4 linked regions of the Homo sapiens genome follow. The protein of the gene in region 3 purifies or fractionates together with the protein of the main gene of each other region. This does not show direct contact. Each region holds a gene or a part of one and is shown on either strand. Other genes may lie near its edges.

Region 1 (4,325 bases), on a different chromosome or scaffold from region 3:
GCCAGGCTGCTATACTGCCCATTGAAGCGGTAGTGATAGGCATAGAAGGCGAAGTGGTAGAGATAGAAGAACCTGCGGGGCGGGGTGAGGGCGTCGGGGCTGCAGGTCCCACCCTGCCAGGCCCAGCCCCTGGGGTTCCCGCGTGGCGCAGCCACCACCCCCGCCTCCAGCGCCCCTCCCTCTGGCAGCCCCCTACCCCTGCCCACCAGCACCCACTCCACCCTGCCCCCGCGCCACGCTCACCGCAGCCAATGCCGCTTGCTGGTGCTGGTGTGGCAGCAGATGGCGTCATACTGGTCCGCGAGCCACACGATGAGGATGATGTAGAAGGCGGTGGTGGTGTCGTTGAAGAACTCCGACATGATGGCCTCCATCCCTGCAGGGAGAGGCGGCGCCGGTTGAAGCGGGCGGGGCGGGGTGCAGCGCGGGGCGGGGGAGGCCGGGTGGGGTCCTCACCGACGAGGGCCAGGATGACGGTCAGCAGGGGCGCTGCGGGGAAGGCGATGGCCATGTTCATCTCCAGCATCTGCAGCAGGTCCACTGCGGGCACAGGGCGGCGGGCGCCCGGTGAGGGCCTGGAGGACGCCCGCCCCGCCCTGCGCCGGCGGGACACTCACCGATGAAGACGAAGATCTGGTGGTGTGAGTACCGCAGCAGCATGGACACGCTCAGCGTCTGCAAGGGGCGCGCAGGAAGCGCTATGAGGGGCTGCGAGGGCCTGCTTGGCTCCCGCCCGGCCAGCCCCCGCACCCGCCCCGAGGCACTCACGAAGATGACCATGATGGCGAAGGCGGCCAGGTAGGACGTCCGCGCCATCCACATGCTCACAAAGCGGTAGTGCTCGCCCGACACCACATTCCGCAGGAAGCCTGCAGCAGAAGGAGCCGTGAGCGCCCGCCCCCACCCGCGCCCTCGCACCCTCGGCCCCGGGGCATGCCTCACCCTTGTTCTCCTCGTTCTCGGCCAGGCCCTTCACGCTGGACATGAGGATGTCATCGTAGCCCAGGAACTCATCCAGCAGCAGGCGGCTGAAGCGGTCCCCGAAGCACTGGTCCCGCGTGGGGTCTGCGGGTGGGTGAATCAGGGAGCCGGGAGCCCCGCCCAGGCCACCCCCTGGGCCCTGCCCCAGCTGGCTCCATTGCTGAGGCCTGGCCTGCTTCCTGGCCCTGCCCATTCTTAGGAAACCCATCCAGGACCCCAGCCCTGGGAAGCGTGCCTGGGGCGGGGCAGACCCCAGTGCTTCCTGCACAGCCCCCCGTCCCGCACCAGCAGGAGGAGACCCGAGGGAGGAGGGGAGGCCCCGCCATGGAGCTCCCCAAGCCCAGCAGCTCAGACTCACCCAGGGTGACCACCATGACGGGGATGCTCAGGCGCTGGCGGGTGGCCTGCGACAGGCGAAGGAAGCCATACTCTAGTGAGTACTCCACGATGTACTCGTCCTGCGGCCACACTGCAGGGCAGAACCAGGGACCAGGTCAGCGCCCCCACACACGTCCCCCGCCCACTGCCAGCAGGCAAGGCAGGCGTTGAGGGGTGGAGGGTGAGACCTGCTGAGCCCTGGGCCCCAGGTGGGTGCTGGGAGGACCCCTACATGGACACTTGGGATGGTGCCCACTCAAGCTGGTGTCCTGCCCTGTGCACTGCAGAGGCTGGCCAGGCTCCTCCTCCCGTGGCCCCCTCTCCCTGGCTGGGGCTGGCTGGGTGCAGGGCTGCCCCACTGCCCTGGCGGCCCCCAGCACACCCCCAACACTTCAGAGGCCCCGGCCCTCTGGATAGACCCTCTGCTGCCAGATGGGCAGGGGTGGGGGCGGGGGCGGGGGCTTCCCTGAGCACAGCCCGCTAGAACTCTGAGCTCAGAGCCGAAGGGATCCATCCCCTCCAAGTCGCCGTTCACGAGGATCCCAGAAAGGATGAGCTGAGCCAGTTACCCCAGGCTCTGGGGTGTCCCCACAGCCTCCTGTGCTGACAGATGGGGAAATCGAGGCACGGGGGTGCCCTCAACGGTCCAGGACATGCAGCCAGCAGGCTGGGGATGTTCGGAGGGACCCCGCCTGCACCCCAGCACCCCATGACTGAGGCAACCCCGTGAGGCAGTACACCTTTGGTGGGTGGCCTACCTTTGGTGGGCGTCTCGGGGAAGGGGAACTCCTGGCTGTCATTCAGGGCCTCTGTGCTACTCGGCGGCTTGAACACCTTGGGCTCGATGTCCAGCTCAAACTGTGGGCGACCAGGGACCTGGGTGTCAGCAGCGCCAGCCCGGGCTGTGAGGGCCCAGCCTGAGGATACAGTCCTGCTAATGGGAAGGGACTGGAAGCCTCAGCCTCTGCCCCACCACTGACCAGGCCAGGGTGGACTACGTGTGCCTCCCGCCTCAGCTGGGACCCCACCTCAACACCAAGCCTGCCCTGCTGTGAGGCCATCTCCAGCACAGCTCTGAATCCTGAAGCTGAGGCAAGGGCCAGCTACAGGCAGTAGACCCCATGGAAGGGTCCATGATGCTCTGCCCAAACACTCAAACTCTTGGGGTTGGCTCTGTGGGAACAGGTGGGACCCCAAACCCTGACTGCTGAAGCAAAAACATCTCCCACCAGGCTGTGGGGCCCAACACAGCCACCTGGTCCCACCAGTGCCCAAGGCCACCACAAGCTGACCGGGAACCCAGCACCTCTGCAGGCAGTGGGGCCACCTCAGGACGGCCAGGATGGGCCCAGAGCTCTTAGCTTTCAGCCCCCAGGCCTCCTCAGCTATTGCTGCCCACTGCATCCCCAGCCCCAGCCAATCCCCTCCCCGGAACAGCTACTCTCAAAGGCCCGAGTCTGCCCAGCCCAAGTCCTCCCCGAGATCCCCCTGCCCTGCCCAGGCCTCTAGCAGGGCGACAGGCCGAGGGTCTTGCTTCAGAGCCCCCAGGCCACCAAAAGGCCACGGCAGGCAGGGGCGGCCTTGTCTGCATGCCAGGTCCCTGAAAGTCAAGAACCCCAACATCCTGTCGATGTCAGGAACCGCCCCTTCAGCGACCAGCATCTACGGGGCGCTGGCCTCTGCTGCAGCTGAGCCCAGGCCTGGCTCACCTTGATGGAGCTGTTCCCAAACATCTCCATGGTCAGCTCTTCCTCCTCCTCATCTTCCATGTCCAGGTTGCTGCCTGGTTCCACGGCCAGGCCCGGGAAGCTCCCGCGGCCGCCGCTGTCACAGAACTGTAGGAAGACGGGCGCGCGGCTCGAGTTGTGCCGCACTTCCACACGCAGGATGCCCTCACGCGGCCACTTGTCACGCACATGCTCCAGGCAGTTGATGGGCGAGCGGGAGAAGACGATGTGGATGTAGGCCAGGACGAAGAGCACAAACAGGGCCTAGGGGGCGGCCGGCAGTCAGTGGGGCGCCCCAGGGCCAGCTGCAGCCGACACCCAAGGGCCTACGTGATGGGGCGTGATGGGGCGCGCTGGGACGCCCAGGACGGGGAAAGGAAGGAAACCCCAGAAGCCGAATTGGGCTCTGAGGACCCTGGGTCCCTCCCACGCTGACTGCACCGGGCCAGCCCCTCACATAGTCCAAGTGACTGAGGATCCGGGGGACGCCCCACTCCAACCCCGGAGGGGCTCTGCCACCTGCAGCCCGGCTCTGACAGGCCCTGGGGCTTCGGCAAGGCCTGTGACTGCCCCGCACCTCCTCAGGGGTGAGCCGGACGAAGCCAGCAGGCCGGGGCCCTCTCAGATGCACACAGGACCCCCCAAACCTGGGAGGAGACGAGGCTGGACTCAGACCCACCAAGTGGAGCACACCAGGGCCCTCTGCCAGCCAACGGCTCCCGCCCTGCAAGCAGCAGCATGGGTGTTGCCGCCACCCCAGGGCCACCAGCTGGACCCACTGTCTACGAAAGAGGGCACAGCCCTCCACAGCCCAACCTGCTGCTTCCTGCCTCACCTTCCGCTGCGTCCCCAGCACTCCCCTGATCTCACCACCTGAAAATAGCTTCTCTCACCTGGCGGGGCGCCCTGTGCAACCCTCCCAGGCCTGGCGGGGCCAGCCGCAGCTGCTGGGGACACAGTGGACCTCCGTGGCTGGGCAGAGCGCCCCACGGCAGGGCGAGGCTGCCGTGCCCGAGGCACAACCTATGAACTGGGGTGCCAGCAGCTCTCACCTGGGGGCTCCTGCCCAGGGGATGCTTGGGACATCTGTGGTTGTCACAATTGGGGGAGCTCCTGGCATGGAGTGGGTGAGGCCAGGGATGCTGCTCGGCACCCCGCAGTGCCCAGGACGGCCCCACCCCGACGTCCACAGGGCTTGGGGAGCCCACGCCCCAGCGTGCTGCAGGCACAACTCAGAGT
Region 2 (4,325 bases), about 150 Mb from region 3:
ACCACACTTACTGTGGCCTCTGGCAGGTTGGGGTAGCCCTACACTGCTCCTAGCACATACCTCCCATCAGCCAGTCATTGAAGAGGAAAGCTGGGATGGCGGTGGGGGGGTGGGGGAGTCAGTCCTTGGTATCTCCTTTTGAGGTTTATCTGAGGGCCCTAGAAAGGCCAGGGCATCAGAGCCTGAGTAAGTGCCACCTCACTTCAATGGCCTTAGGGCTCTTGGTCTGGCAAAGGAAAATAATCTATTCAGTCCACTTAAACCACAGGACTCTTGCTTAGGTAGGGCAGTGCCCAGCATGCTCTGGAGATGGCCTGGCAAGTCACTGGCAGGGCCCAGAGGAGGAAACAGTATCATAAGGCCAAAAACAAGAGCCCCACCCCAGCAAACCTCCTCCACATGGACATGGACTCTGCAGAGAGCCAAGCTCAGGGCTGAGGACTAGTTCCCATCATCTGGACATGCCAAGAAACAGGGAAACAAGAAACATGTCATCCTATGGTCCAGTGGGAAGGCAGAGCCCGAGGAAGGAATGGCTAAGATTGGGATGGCATAACAGGTATGGGAGCCATCCTGTCCAGCGAGACAACCAACAAGCCCAACGTATATGATGTTGGACACTGCTGCCTCCAGTTCTGATCATTCCTGAGGCAAGAATATGGCATGCACCTGGAGCTCCTACCCAGGCTTCTCCACTCTCAGGAGGATGTGGTACAAAACCATCTGCCTAAGACACCACTAAGTAGCTGTGTGATCTTGCGCAAGCCACAAATGCTCAGTTTCCCCATCTGTAAAGCAGATAATCTCTGCCCTGCTTCCTTCTCTAGGCTATGAAGAGTCACCAATAAAGTCTGTCCCTTTGGTATCTGAACCCTGAGTTATTTAAGTCCTAGAAAGTGAGGCCCAGTGTGCACCATGCAGGTTTGATATTCAGCAGCCACCCTGCTAGAGGTGGGCCAGAAAATGAGAAGGAAAGGTTCCAAGGGCAGGGAGCCCTCCCCCTCCTTTATTTAACAGTGTCTGTGGCCTGCTGTATTCTGGCCTCATTCTGGGCACTGGGGATGCAGAGAGAAGAAACTCAACCCTACCCTTGAGGGGCTTAAGTCTAGTAAGAGAGACAGACATGAAAGCTGATTATTGTGTGTGATCAGTGCTGTGTCAGCAGTGTGTATGGGATGCAGTTTCAGTACAGTTAGAAGCACCCAATTCTGCCTCAGAGAGAAATTACTCTGAGAAGTGATGCAGTCTTCCTCCTTTCTAAGGCATGAAGGAGTGAGAGTTCACCCAGTAAAGGGCATAGGACATTCCAGTCAGAGGAGCAAGGCACAGGGATCAAATGGGACACGGTAAGGAAGAGGCAGTGTGGCTGAAATGTTGGAGTCATGAGGACATTGGCAGGAGAGGACATTAGAGGCATGCCAGAGCCTTGTCATGTGGGTGGGAATGGAACAATAAGCTGAGGGCAATGGGAACAATGAAAGGGTTTTAAGCCCGGGATGACAAATGCTCAGATTTGTGTTTTTATGAAGATTATAGCTGCAGTGTGCAGAACAGATTGGAGAGAAGGGGAGATGCCAAGAAAACCCACTAGAAGGTTGCTGATAATCCAGGTGAGACCCTAAACTGAGGCAGTGGCCACGGAGGTGGGTAGAAGTGGACCAACCGAGAGAGAATCAGGAGTCAGGATCAATGGGGCTTGTCCCAGATTGGGTACAGGGAGTTGGGAGAGGTGGAGTTGAGGATGACCACACCAGGTTTCTGGTTCAGTTTTCTCCCCAGTTTGGACCTACTCCATGGCCCACAGAAACAGAGGCCAGGATCATGAGACCAGGCACTGAGGATATGAGCTGCGAGTACTCTGGGCACCAACCGAGACCCCTGGTGAGCCTCAAACCTGTGACCATGAATCCAGGCAAGGCTCATGAGGCTAGCTGAGCAGTGCTGTTTTTTTGTTTTTGTTTCTCCAAACTGGAAGCCTGGATTAGACAACACGAGAAGCCTGAATGAAGCCCCTGCTGCCAACTCTCTCAGGCAAAGGGCCACAGTGAGTAGAGGGCTAGGACCACAGCCAAAGGTACTTGACTTCTGGCCTAGAAAGTACTAAGCCTTGATGCAGGGAAAGGAACCAACAGTCTCTGAGTACTTCACTGTGCAAAAGCCCCTGAGCCAAGGGCCCAGAAGATGTGACTTTAATACCTGTAAACAATCATTTCAAGTATATGTTATCTCCGTTTCACAGATATGGAAATGAAGGCCCAGCAAAGGTAAGTGACTTGCCCAAGGACACACAACTAGTTGGTGGTGATGAACTTAGAATCTAGGTCTAGCTGACTTCAAAAGCCCGTGCTCTTTCCACTTTTCATTATATCCCAAAGTAAAGGAGCCAGCCTAGTGCCCCAAGCCCCTCAGAGCCTCTGCCCACCTCCCACCCCCACTTCCTTCTTCCATATCCAGACTGGCCCTGAGCCCAGCAGGCCAGCAGAAGACATCATTCACCCTCTTATCCACTTCAACCTAAAGTTTCAACTATTTATAAGGTGTTGTGCTTGATCTCACAGGTTTCCCATCAAGTCCCACGTGTGACTCAGGGGACAGAGAAGAACAGAGTGGGCAGCTTTGGCTCCCCATTTGGGGAAGCAGAGGCAGTGGCAGTGGCAGCAGCAGCAGAGACCCCGGTCAGGACCTACCTTGCTGGAAGAGAGTGAGTGTGACGGAGGTGACGAGCAGGAAGAGGGCCTCAATTGGGGGAAAGTGGGCAGGCTCATGAGCAAAGATGTGGACCAGCTACGAGAAAGCAGGGAATGCTGGTCAGCTGAGACCCAGTCTCACCAGGACATGGCAATATCCCTGGAATGCAAGTGGGGACCCCAGCCACGGCAGCCATCTGACCCACCCCCACCCAGGGTCAGGATCTCTGCCCCAACCAGAAGGCCCACCTGTCGAGTGAGGTCAAGAGCAGAGGCCTGGGGGATGGTGCTGTACATCCGACCCAGCATCTCACACAGCTGTGGCACCATGGGGGCAAAGTCATCCAGCAGCGTCTTAACAGACTTCTCAAAGATAGCGCACACCGCCTTGGGAAGAAAGCAAAGGGGCCCTGGTCAGCAGGTCATGACTGGCTGGAACAGCGCTGAAGCCCTGCACAGAGGGGGCCTACGATTGGGCCCTTACCTATAAGCCTTGCCTGGCCCTGCAAACCAAGGAAGGTAAGCAAGTCTGACCCTCACCCTGAAAGGCAGGGGGCAAAGGCCCTTCACTGAGGGGCACAGGATGTAACTGTGGAACTTAACTCCTGCGACTTACATCTCTAACATTTCCTCTCAGGGAGCAGCAACAGCAACAAAAACCTGAATTGAAAAGGGACCAAAGGCAGGTCTTTGGTGCTAAAACAGATGCCTGACTGTCACTCGACCCTAATATTAGAGTCCTTACGTTAAGCACTTCTCATGATATTGGGGAGTTCTAAATGTCTTCCCAAAAGATTCCTTATCTCTATGGGGCAGGATTCACCTCCCTTGTTTTCTCCAAACCATTGTAAGCTGAAGTGTGGCAGTAACATCTTACCCTGCTACACCTCTGAGCAGTCACTATGGGAGCGGAGGGCAAGGGTCAGGGCTCACCTCCACAACCTGGGCATCATTCAACCATTTGCTCAGCACCTTCTGGATAAGCTGGAAGACCTGCTGCAGCACCACCACCACCTGAAGGCACAGGAAGAAGTGAGGCGCTTCTGCTATCCATCACTGTGACCCACTTGAGGAGGACTTGGTGGCAGGGAGGAGGGGAGCAGTTCAGACCTATTACCCCAGAACACACATTGAGGACCCAGGGCATGGGACCCCTGGGGGAAGAAGTGGTTTGCTGAACTCTCTCATGAATGAAAAAGGAGTATTTCCTGAATTCTAGGGATCATCTCAAAGGAAGCCTCAAACTGCAAAGCAGAGATATCACAAGTGCTTCATAAGGTTACAAAAACTTTGTAAACTTAAAAAAAAATCTCTCCCTATCTCTGCTCTGTAAAACCAAGGCTATGGGCTAGCCTCTGAAGAAGTGGAGATGCTATCTCCTCCAAATAGGCTTGAGGTAGGGAGCCCCAAGGAATGCACAGATGCAGGCTTAAGCTGCTCTCCCAGCTTATGGAGGAGCAGAGAGCAGACTGAGGTCCTGGGAGGTGAGGAAAGGCAGGATGATGACTACCATGTAAAGAAGCAGCTCTGTGGGATGACAGTGGCCCAGGGGTGGTCTAAAGCCAAGAGGCTAACTGAAACTGGGTTGGGGAGTTAAGCAGAGAGGCCAGGATGCCTATGGCTTCCTTTTCTCCTGGA
Region 3 (4,343 bases):
GCGACAGAGCAAGACTCTGTCTAAAAAAAAAAAAAAAAAAAGAACATGATCCTTGAAATGGAAATCTGCTGCTTTACTAGCTGTGTGATCTTAGGTATTTAACCTCTTACACGAGTCCTTCCTGTCTTAGTGTTGTTCCTGAGGGTTGTATGAGATCATGTATGTAAAGTGCTTTAACACAGTACCAAGCATACTGCTTGTACAATCAGTAAATAGTTTCTACTGCTGTTACTGGTATTATTTTTGTAGAATTTGCTGGAAATAGCACATTAATAAAATTGCAGTTGAGATTATATGTGATTATGCTGTATACAAAGAGGTGTGAGGAGAAATCTCAATTATTTGGTTGAATTAGAATTTCACCACTTATATACTTGATCAAAATAAATAAGTATTCTAAGTATTGAAAGTTTTGGTGTTTTCATCTTCTTAAGTACCTATTAACACTTTGAACATAAAGATTAGTTATTTGTGTACCCTTTGACCAAAAGCAAAGCTGTCATTTAAAATTATATTTTTATGTATATAAAAATCACATAGTGTCGGGATGAAGAAGACACAGTTAACAAGTGGTGAGATGTTTATATACACTATCAGCTTATTTTGCTTAAGAAAACGACTTGAGTATTGTTGCGGAAAAGTCAAAAGTAAATTAATAGAATATTTATTTTAAAGTAAGGATTTTCAACAGTACAAAGACACTTTACTGTTTGATCCAGTCGCCTTTGAGAGCTCACAGTGTCTGATATCAGATTACTATCGTTTTTCAAGATAATGTTAGGAATATAGAAATTTACATAGATTTTATAAATTTTATAGATTTTAAATTGAAACTTGAGATAGGAAGAATTTAGGTGTCTGTTATCTGTTTTTCATGAGTCATTTTTTAAAAAACTTTTTCCAGATGGAAATTACTATCTTTTAAAGATCCTGCAAAATAGTCATAATTTGGACAAATAGAACTTGAGTTCTCTTTCTATGTACACACCTGTGTATGCACACACACACACTGTTTTTAAAACTTTTGAAGCATAAATCAGCATTATTCTACACTGAGGGAAGGATTCCTTTTGTCTTCTGTCAAACATGCTGATCTGATTTGGTATTATCCCCTTATGTGTGACTTTTATTAAGTAATTCTGGTATTTCTGTAGTCATATAGAATAAATTAAGTGAAAGACAGGCTTGATCCAAGAGCTGGGGTGTGTTACATAGATCAGCTCTCAGAATCACTTGATTTAGAGTAGAACACTTAGGCTACTGATTTGAAATGGAGATAAGCACTTAAACAGTTTTAGTGTTTTCAAGTTTCACAAATGTTACAATTCTCTTCTGGTGATTTATCCCTTAATAATAGAATAAGAGGTAAAAATGATTGTTATTAGAATTAAGAAACATTCTGACTAAATTAAGATTGACAGATTTACATACTTGTATGGAATAAAAACACTATTTTAGTTAGTAGGTTGGTATTTCTTGATTTTAAAATTCATGATGGAGTCAAACAAAATTATTGTGAAAATACTTATAACACTCAGTAAAGTTTTTTGTTTTCCTTTATTTTTAAAAACTTCATAAAAGTGCATTGTATACATTGTTCATCCTAGAATTGTGTTTGTCAAACGTTTGTAGTTTTCCCCATCCCTCCCAAAAAGGTTTTTAATTGGTGATTCAGAATATTTGTCATCTACCAAATTAAAAACTGCAGGTTTGCAAACTTGGCACTCCAAGAAAGAAATAGGTGCCATAAAATGATTAAGTGTTGGCATGTGTACACCTGCTGTCAGGAAATAAACTTCCCGTATGTTGCATTTTGGCAGACATGCATCTTAAAAATGTGTTGAATGAAACTGCACCTGCACTCTTTATCTTTTTCAACAGTACATCCTATTTGTGCCTTTAAGTGATTACTTTTGCTTCGATTATCTTTACAGATATATTCGAAGTTAGATATACATGAAATTAAATGGTGGTGCTGTTTAAGAGTGCAGTAATTGGTCTAATCCAATAACTCATTGAAATAGGAGTTTGGTTCTTAACATCAATGAGGAAACAAAACTTGTCTATTTTGAAACATTTAATAACTATAAAAACTTGAGCCTGAGACACATTAGTTTTTCACATTTTACCACGTCATGTCAAAATAATTTTCCCCCATATATTAATAAAAGAAAGTATTAATAAAAGAAATTTAAAATAATATCTCAGTTATTTTTAAAAAGTAAATACTTTCGTGAGAACTGCATTGATGAAACATCTGAACTTTATAATGTGTTTGTGGAATAACTCAACTAAATCTTATTGCATTTAGAACCCTAAAATAGGTCAAAAAATTTATCCTTTGCACAATTAAAAAGTTTCCTTAAAATTGATAGTGATGTTTTATTTACATTAAATTATATATTAAAATGAAAAGCTTAATCTAAAATGAAGGATCTTTTGACTGTCATTTCTTGAATTAAAATTTATGTGGAAAACATATGCAGATACATTTTATTGGCCCCTAACAGAAGACTTGAACCATTGATTTATGCATGCTTGTTATTGCATGTTAATACACAGAATCTCCTTATACAGTTTTTTAAATAGATTGTTTTGGGAAACCTTTTTTGTTATATAATGTTATAGTTTTAAGAATTAACTTCTTCAGAAATTAAAAAAATACTTCTTGAATTTCTTTATGTGATGAGTTTTAACTAAAACTTGTCCTACGGATGTAATCAGTTCTAACTATACATGCTTTTAGCAATATTTACAAATTGCACATTTGAAAAAAAATTGTCTTTTCTAATGTAGTTTACGGTGGCGATACCTGCCTGCCTTTTCTTTTGCTGCGTTGGCACAGGCATTGTGCTTATTTTGTTGTAAATGGTTCCAGTATTTTATCAGTTCACTAGGCTGGAACTGATGAGAGGTAATTAGGTGGCTGTATTTACAGCTCGAATAAGAGACTCGCCAGTGATTGAACACAAACTCATTGGGAGGGGGTACAGGATCAATTCTCAACTTGGCAAGACAGATCCCTACATATACATCTTCCAAGTGCAAACGGCGGATACCTAAAGAAACTTTAAAAATCTTTTCTGCCAGATCTCCAGAAAAAACATAACCAGTTCCAGAACAGAAGACAGGATAACGCTCACTTGGGTAGAGGTCTGGTGGCATGTACCACTTGCTATCTTTGTTTCGATTGGGTGCATATCCTCGCATTAGGTAACCAGTGAAATAGTTATGTCTGGGAGGCAGATCTGGCTTCAGTAACTTATTGATTAAATATTCAGTGTTGACAAACATGTCACTGTCAGTTTTCATAACATATGGAATATGTGGACAGTATGTTGCAACCCAGTTCATGCCCATTAGTGTTTTAATGGTCAAATTATAGTACGTATCTAAGTATTCCTGTTGAATTATATCATGATATTGTCTGCTTTCTTCCAGTATTGCACGTTGAAGGTAGCCATTTAGCTTAATACTTAAGCCCAACAAAAATATTCTTGTGATTTGAATACCAGGTGCTAGACTTTCATTGCCCCAAGTTTGCCGAATAGCTCTTCTAGCTTCTATTTGTCCAGGCTCTGCAGCTATTAGTAGTATTAAAAAAGGACTTTTCTCTTGGCATTTTTCAGGCTCATTAATAATATATTTGAAATGGTAAGAATTTGGATGTCCAGTACCTTTTTCATTGTAAATACTTCCATTGGCACTAAGTGTATTCTCCAGGCCTGTAACTCCTTGTGGTGACAGGTCTGTGTTATTAGAGTTAGTTGCTGTTTGAGGCCTCAGGGTTTGAGGGACTGTTTCTTTCCAAATGTTCCGAAGGGAGCTGTGGTTTGTCTCACTTTTTGTTGACCGAAATCCTCGGAAAGTGTATGTCACAGGGTTTTCTTTGAATCCAGCTCTGCCTGGCAGCCAGTCATGATGATTGAAAAACAAAAACATAGCAAAAAGAAACACTAGAGAAAGTACTCCAATAAGATGAGTGCGGAACAGAGACCTTTTGGCATTCCAGGTCATCTTTGCAAAGCAGCAGTGTCTTCTCCTCCACTGAAGCATGTTGTAAATATCCAGTAGTGGTATATGAGAGATTGGTGACCAAAAATGTTTTCTTCTCCTTAATACTATTCTTTGGCAATCATTTTCTAATTCAGTCACATTGTCTCTCTTGTAGTCATTCTATAAAAATGAAGCACAAAAGTTTACAGAACTGCCTGAAAGGGACTTTGGGTACTAATATGATCAGGGCAAATAGGAATGTCTTAAGCTGTGAAAATATAACCCAGGAACGAAGCTTGTAATTTATTTCCCCTTGGCAACATAACATCACTGAGAACAAGATTAAT
Region 4 (4,325 bases), on a different chromosome or scaffold from region 3:
AGCGGAAGGTCTGCTCGTGCTGGGTCACGTTGTGGAACGGGCAGAACTCATACTTGTACCTGGGGACACAGATGGCATGAGGGGGGTCCGCAGGCTGCGCCCCAGCCCACCCTCGCACCCACCCTGCACTCACGTGGACTCCACCAGGCTGAAGCACTTGCCCGAGAGTCGGAAGAGATGCACGGGTCCTGGAAGAGACCTCACACTGATCCCCAGGGTCCAAGCACAGAACCTGTCTGCAAAGACTGGCAGAGTCTGTTTTCAAAGGACCAGTTTTCTTTTTTTTTGAGATGGAGTCTCACTCTGTCACCCAGGCTGGAGTGCAGTGGCATGATCTTGGCTCACTTCAAGCTCCGCCTCCCATGTTCACGCCATTCTCCTGCCTCAGCCTCCCAAGTAGCTGGGACTACAGGCGCCCGCCACCATGCCCGGCTAATTTTTTGTATTTTTAGTAGAGACGGGGTTTCACCGCGTTAGCCAGGATGGTCTCGATCTCCTGACCTCGTGATCCACCCACCTCGGCCTCCCAAAGTGCTGGGATTACAGGTTTGAGCCACCGCGCCCGGCCAAGGACCAGTTTTCAACAAAAAGCACAAGACGTTCAAAGAAACAGGAAAACAGGTACCATTCAATGGAAGAAACTGACAAAACCGAGAATTCTAAAAATAGCCCTTCAAAAATTAGAGTTAAGGCTTGCTATCGTGGCTCATGCCTGTAATCCCAGCACTTTGGGAGGCCAAGGCGGGAAGATTGCTTGAGGCCAGGAGTATGACACCAGCCTGGGCAACACTGTGAGAACCCCGTGTCTACACAAAAAGCACACAGAAAAAATGAGCTGAGTGTAGTGGCGCGCACCTGTAATCCCAGCTACTCAGGAGGCTGAGGCAGGAGAATCTCTTGAACCCAGGAGGTGGAGAGTGCAGTGAGCTGAGATCGTACCACTGCACTCCAGCCTGCGTGACAGAGCAAGACCCTGTCTTCCCCACCCCCCAAAAAAGAGGACATTCCCAGATAAAAGCTTCAGGAGTTGGTTACATGCAGGCCGGTGTGCCACCCGGGGAAGTGAGCAGACAGCAGCTCAGCGGAGGCAGACGGAGGTCCTCGTGCAGGGTGAATTAATACCAGTTGCCTTTCTAGCTATGGTCTGTAAAGCTACAGGACTTAAACCAGTGGTCCCCAATCTTTTTGGCACCAGGGACTGGTTTCATGGAAGGCAGTTTTTCTACCAGCCGGGGGTGGGGATGGGTGGTTTGGGGATGAAACTGTTCCACCTCAGCTCATCAGGCATTAGATTCTTTTTTTTCTTTTGGAGACAGTCTCACTCTGTCACCCAAGGTGAAATGCAGTGGCGCGATCTCGGCTCACTGCAACCTCCGCCTCCTGGGTTCAAGTGATTCCCCTGCCTCAGCCTCCCGAGTAGCTGGGATCCCACGTGCCCGCCACCACGCCCAGCTAATTTTTGTATCTTCAGCAGAGGCGGGGTTTCACTGTGTTGGCCAGGCTGGTCTGCAACTGTGGACCTGAAGTGATCCGTCCACCTTGGCCTCCCAAGTGCTGGGATTACAGGTGTGAGCCACTATGCCCGGCCTGAAAGACTAACTTCAGATTTAAAGACATAAACAGGTTGAAAGTGAAGGTATGGAAAAGTATTCATATAAACAGGCAAAAGAGAGCTGAAGTGGCTGAAACTATTTTAAGAGACAAAGATGTTATACATTGATAAAAGGGTCAATGTGCCAAGACACCACAATTATCCACGCACAAACAGTGCCACCCACTACATAAAGCTGACATGAGACATCCATACGCCACTTTTTTTTTTTTGAGACGGAGTCTAGCATTGTCGCCAGGCTGGATTGCAGTGGCACGATCTTGGCTCACTACAATCTCCACCACTGGGTTCAACCGATTTTCCCGCCTCAGTCTCCCCAGTAGCTAGGATTACCGGTGCCTGCCATCACGGCTGGCTAATTTTTGTATTTTTGTAGAGACGGGGTTTCTCCATGTTGGCCAGGATGGTCTCAAACTCCTGACCTCAGGTGATCCACCTGCCTCAGCCTCCTAAAGTACTGGGATTACAGGCGTGAGCCCCAGCGCCCAGCCTGATGGATTCAATATTTTTAAGATGACAATACCACCCAGAGTGATCTGCAGATTCAATGCAACCCCATCAAAACCCCAATGACAGTTTTTGCAGAAATAGAAAAACACATCCTAAAGTTCATAGGGAGTCTCAGAGGACCCCAAATCATCGAACAAATCTTAAAGACAGAGTTGAGAGACTCGTACATACTGATTCCAAAAATTACTTCAAAGCTGTTATGATCAAAACAGTGTGATACTGGCATAAAGACTGGCATAGAGGCCGGGCGCAGGGTCTCACGCCTGTAATCCCAGTGCTTTGGGAGGCCGAGGCAGACGGATCACGAAGTCAGGAGATCGAGACCATCCTGGCCAACATGGTGAAACCTGATCTCTAATAAAGTACAAAAAAATTAGCCAGGCGTGATGGCGGATGCCTGCAGTCCCAGCTACTCGGGAGGCTGAGGCAGGAGAATTCCTTGAGCCTGGGAGGTGGAGAGGTTGCCGTGAGCCAAGATCGTGCTACTGCACTCCAGCCTGGGCTACAGAGTTAGACTCTATATGGAAAAAAAAACAAACCCATCAAGGGAGTGAAAAGACAACCCACAGAATGGGAGAAAATAAACACTGGCAAACCACGTATGTAAGAGACTCACATCCAGAACACAGAACTACAGCCCAACAATAAACTCAAGTTAAAAATGGGCAGAGAAGCCGGGAATCCCAGCACTTCGGGAGGCCGAGGCAGGCGGATCATGAGGTCAGGAGTTTGAGACCAGCCTGGCCAACATGGTGAAACCCCGTCTCTACTAAATAAAAATGAGCCAGGTGTGGTGGCTCACGCCTGTAATCCCAGCTACTTGAGAGGCTGAGGCAGGAGAATCGCCTGAGCCTGGGAGGCAGAGCTTGCAGTGAGCCAAGATGGCGCCACTGTACTCCAGTCTGGGCCACAGAGTGAGACTCCATCTCAAAAAAAAAAAAGGACAAACACCATAAGCAACTGAAAAGATCCCACATGACTGATCATTAGGGAAATGCAAATTAAAACAACCCTAAGGTACCGCTTCACACCCACTAGGATGGCTGTTAGCAAAAAACAGTGTTGGTGAAAATGTGGAGAAACTGGACCCCTCGTGCAATGCTGGCTGGAATGGGAAACGGTGCAGCCACTATGCAAACAGTTTGGTGGTTCCTCAAAAAGCTAAACATGGAATTCTAATAAGATCCAGCAAAGCTACTCTCAGAAATTGGAAGCAGAGACTCAAATATTTACACCCAAGTTCACAGCAGCCTATTCCCAGGCAGAGGGTGGAAGCCACTCCAGTGTCCATGGACAGATGACGGGTAAACAACAACGTGGTCTGTCCTTGCAGTGGAACAGTCCTCAGCCATATAAAAAGGAAGCACTGAGAGCCTCCAGCCTGGGGGACCTTGGGGACACTGTGCCAAGAGGAGTTGGTCAGACACAAAAGGTCGCACACAGTTATGAGTCACCTATGTGACGTCTATGAATAGCCAAGTTCAGAGACAGCAGAATGGTGGGTGCCGGGGCTGGGGGAGCGGGGCAGCTGGGAGTCAGGGTTTGAAGGGGACAGAGCAAGTTGTGGAGATGATGGTGCTGACGGTTGCAGGGCAGTGTCACCAGCGCCTGGGGGAAGAGGGAAGGCGTGCAGCGTCCCTACCCTCCAGCCAGGCCAGCCCCAGGCAGTGCTAGAGCAAGGGCGTGTACACATCAAGGCCAGTGGCAACTCGTGAGTCAAGCCACAGCAGCCACCCTGTTCTTTAAGCTGGGGAGTCGGGACCTGGCTGGGGACGCCACCTTAACACAGCGCCCACCGAGACTGTCAGCCACGGGCCATCCTCCAGGACTGTGGGGAAGGCTGGGGCTTGGGCCGTGGAGGCAGGGAGGGGACTGGCCCCCATCCCCGTCCCCTGAAGGGCCTGCGCTGCAGCAGCAAGTGCACTGGTTAGAGGAGGACGCCCCAGACTGATGTTTCAAACTCTCTGTAGTTTTACCGTATTAATAATAAAGTCGAGGCCAGGCGCGGTGGCTCATGACTGTCATCCCAGCACTGTGGGAGGCCGAGGCGGGCAGATCACGAGGTCAGGAGATCGAGACCGTCCTGGCTAACACGGTGAAACCCCGTCTCTGTTAAAAACACAAAAAATTAGCCGGGCATGGTGGCGGGCGCCTGTAGTCCCAGCTACTCAGGAGGCTGAGGCAGGAGAATGGCGTGAACCCG

Evidence for each region. The genes of interacting proteins can lie anywhere in the genome.
Region 1: the proteins of B3GALT2 (region 3) and TMEM259 purify together in Homo sapiens (affinity purification with mass spectrometry; 3 studies listed by BioGRID and IntAct, with this or other methods). This does not show direct contact.
Region 2: the proteins of B3GALT2 (region 3) and IPO13 purify together in Homo sapiens (affinity purification with mass spectrometry; 3 studies listed by BioGRID and IntAct, with this or other methods). This does not show direct contact.
Region 4: the proteins of B3GALT2 (region 3) and GNPTG purify together in Homo sapiens (affinity purification with mass spectrometry, with the first as the bait; one large-scale study listed by BioGRID). This does not show direct contact.

Annotation. Positions count from the first base shown.
Region 1 is NC_000019.10:1,011,124-1,015,448, forward strand, and holds part of TMEM259 (membralin), read right to left. Parts: intron 3,351-4,325; coding exon 3,069-3,350; intron 2,236-3,068; coding exon of another isoform or gene 2,218-2,235; coding exon 2,118-2,217; intron 1,451-2,117; coding exon 1,340-1,450; intron 1,066-1,339; coding exon 943-1,065; intron 870-942; coding exon 769-869; intron 676-768; coding exon 618-675; intron 541-617; coding exon 457-540; intron 377-456; coding exon 244-376; intron 73-243; coding exon 1-72. UniProt on the Homo sapiens protein: May have a role in the ERAD pathway required for clearance of misfolded proteins in the endoplasmic reticulum (ER). Promotes survival of motor neurons, probably by protecting against ER stress.
Region 2 is NC_000001.11:43,959,625-43,963,949, reverse strand, and holds part of IPO13 (importin-13), read right to left. Parts: intron 3,702-4,325; coding exon 3,621-3,701; intron 3,075-3,620; coding exon 2,937-3,074; intron 2,785-2,936; coding exon 2,688-2,784; intron 1-2,687. UniProt on the Homo sapiens protein: Functions in nuclear protein import as nuclear transport receptor. Serves as receptor for nuclear localization signals (NLS) in cargo substrates.
Region 3 is NC_000001.11:193,177,507-193,181,849, forward strand, and holds the end of B3GALT2 (beta-1,3-galactosyltransferase 2), read right to left. Parts: intron 4,177-4,343; 5' UTR 4,057-4,176; coding exon 2,788-4,056; 3' UTR 1,224-2,787; downstream 1-1,223. UniProt on the Homo sapiens protein: Beta-1,3-galactosyltransferase that transfers galactose from UDP-galactose to substrates with a terminal beta-N-acetylglucosamine (beta-GlcNAc) residue. Can also utilize substrates with a terminal galactose residue, albeit with lower efficiency.
Region 4 is NC_000016.10:1,357,606-1,361,930, reverse strand, and holds part of GNPTG (N-acetylglucosamine-1-phosphotransferase subunit gamma precursor), read right to left. Parts: intron 189-4,325; coding exon 134-188; intron 60-133; coding exon 1-59. UniProt on the Homo sapiens protein: Non-catalytic subunit of the N-acetylglucosamine-1-phosphotransferase complex, an enzyme that catalyzes the formation of mannose 6-phosphate (M6P) markers on high mannose type oligosaccharides in the Golgi apparatus.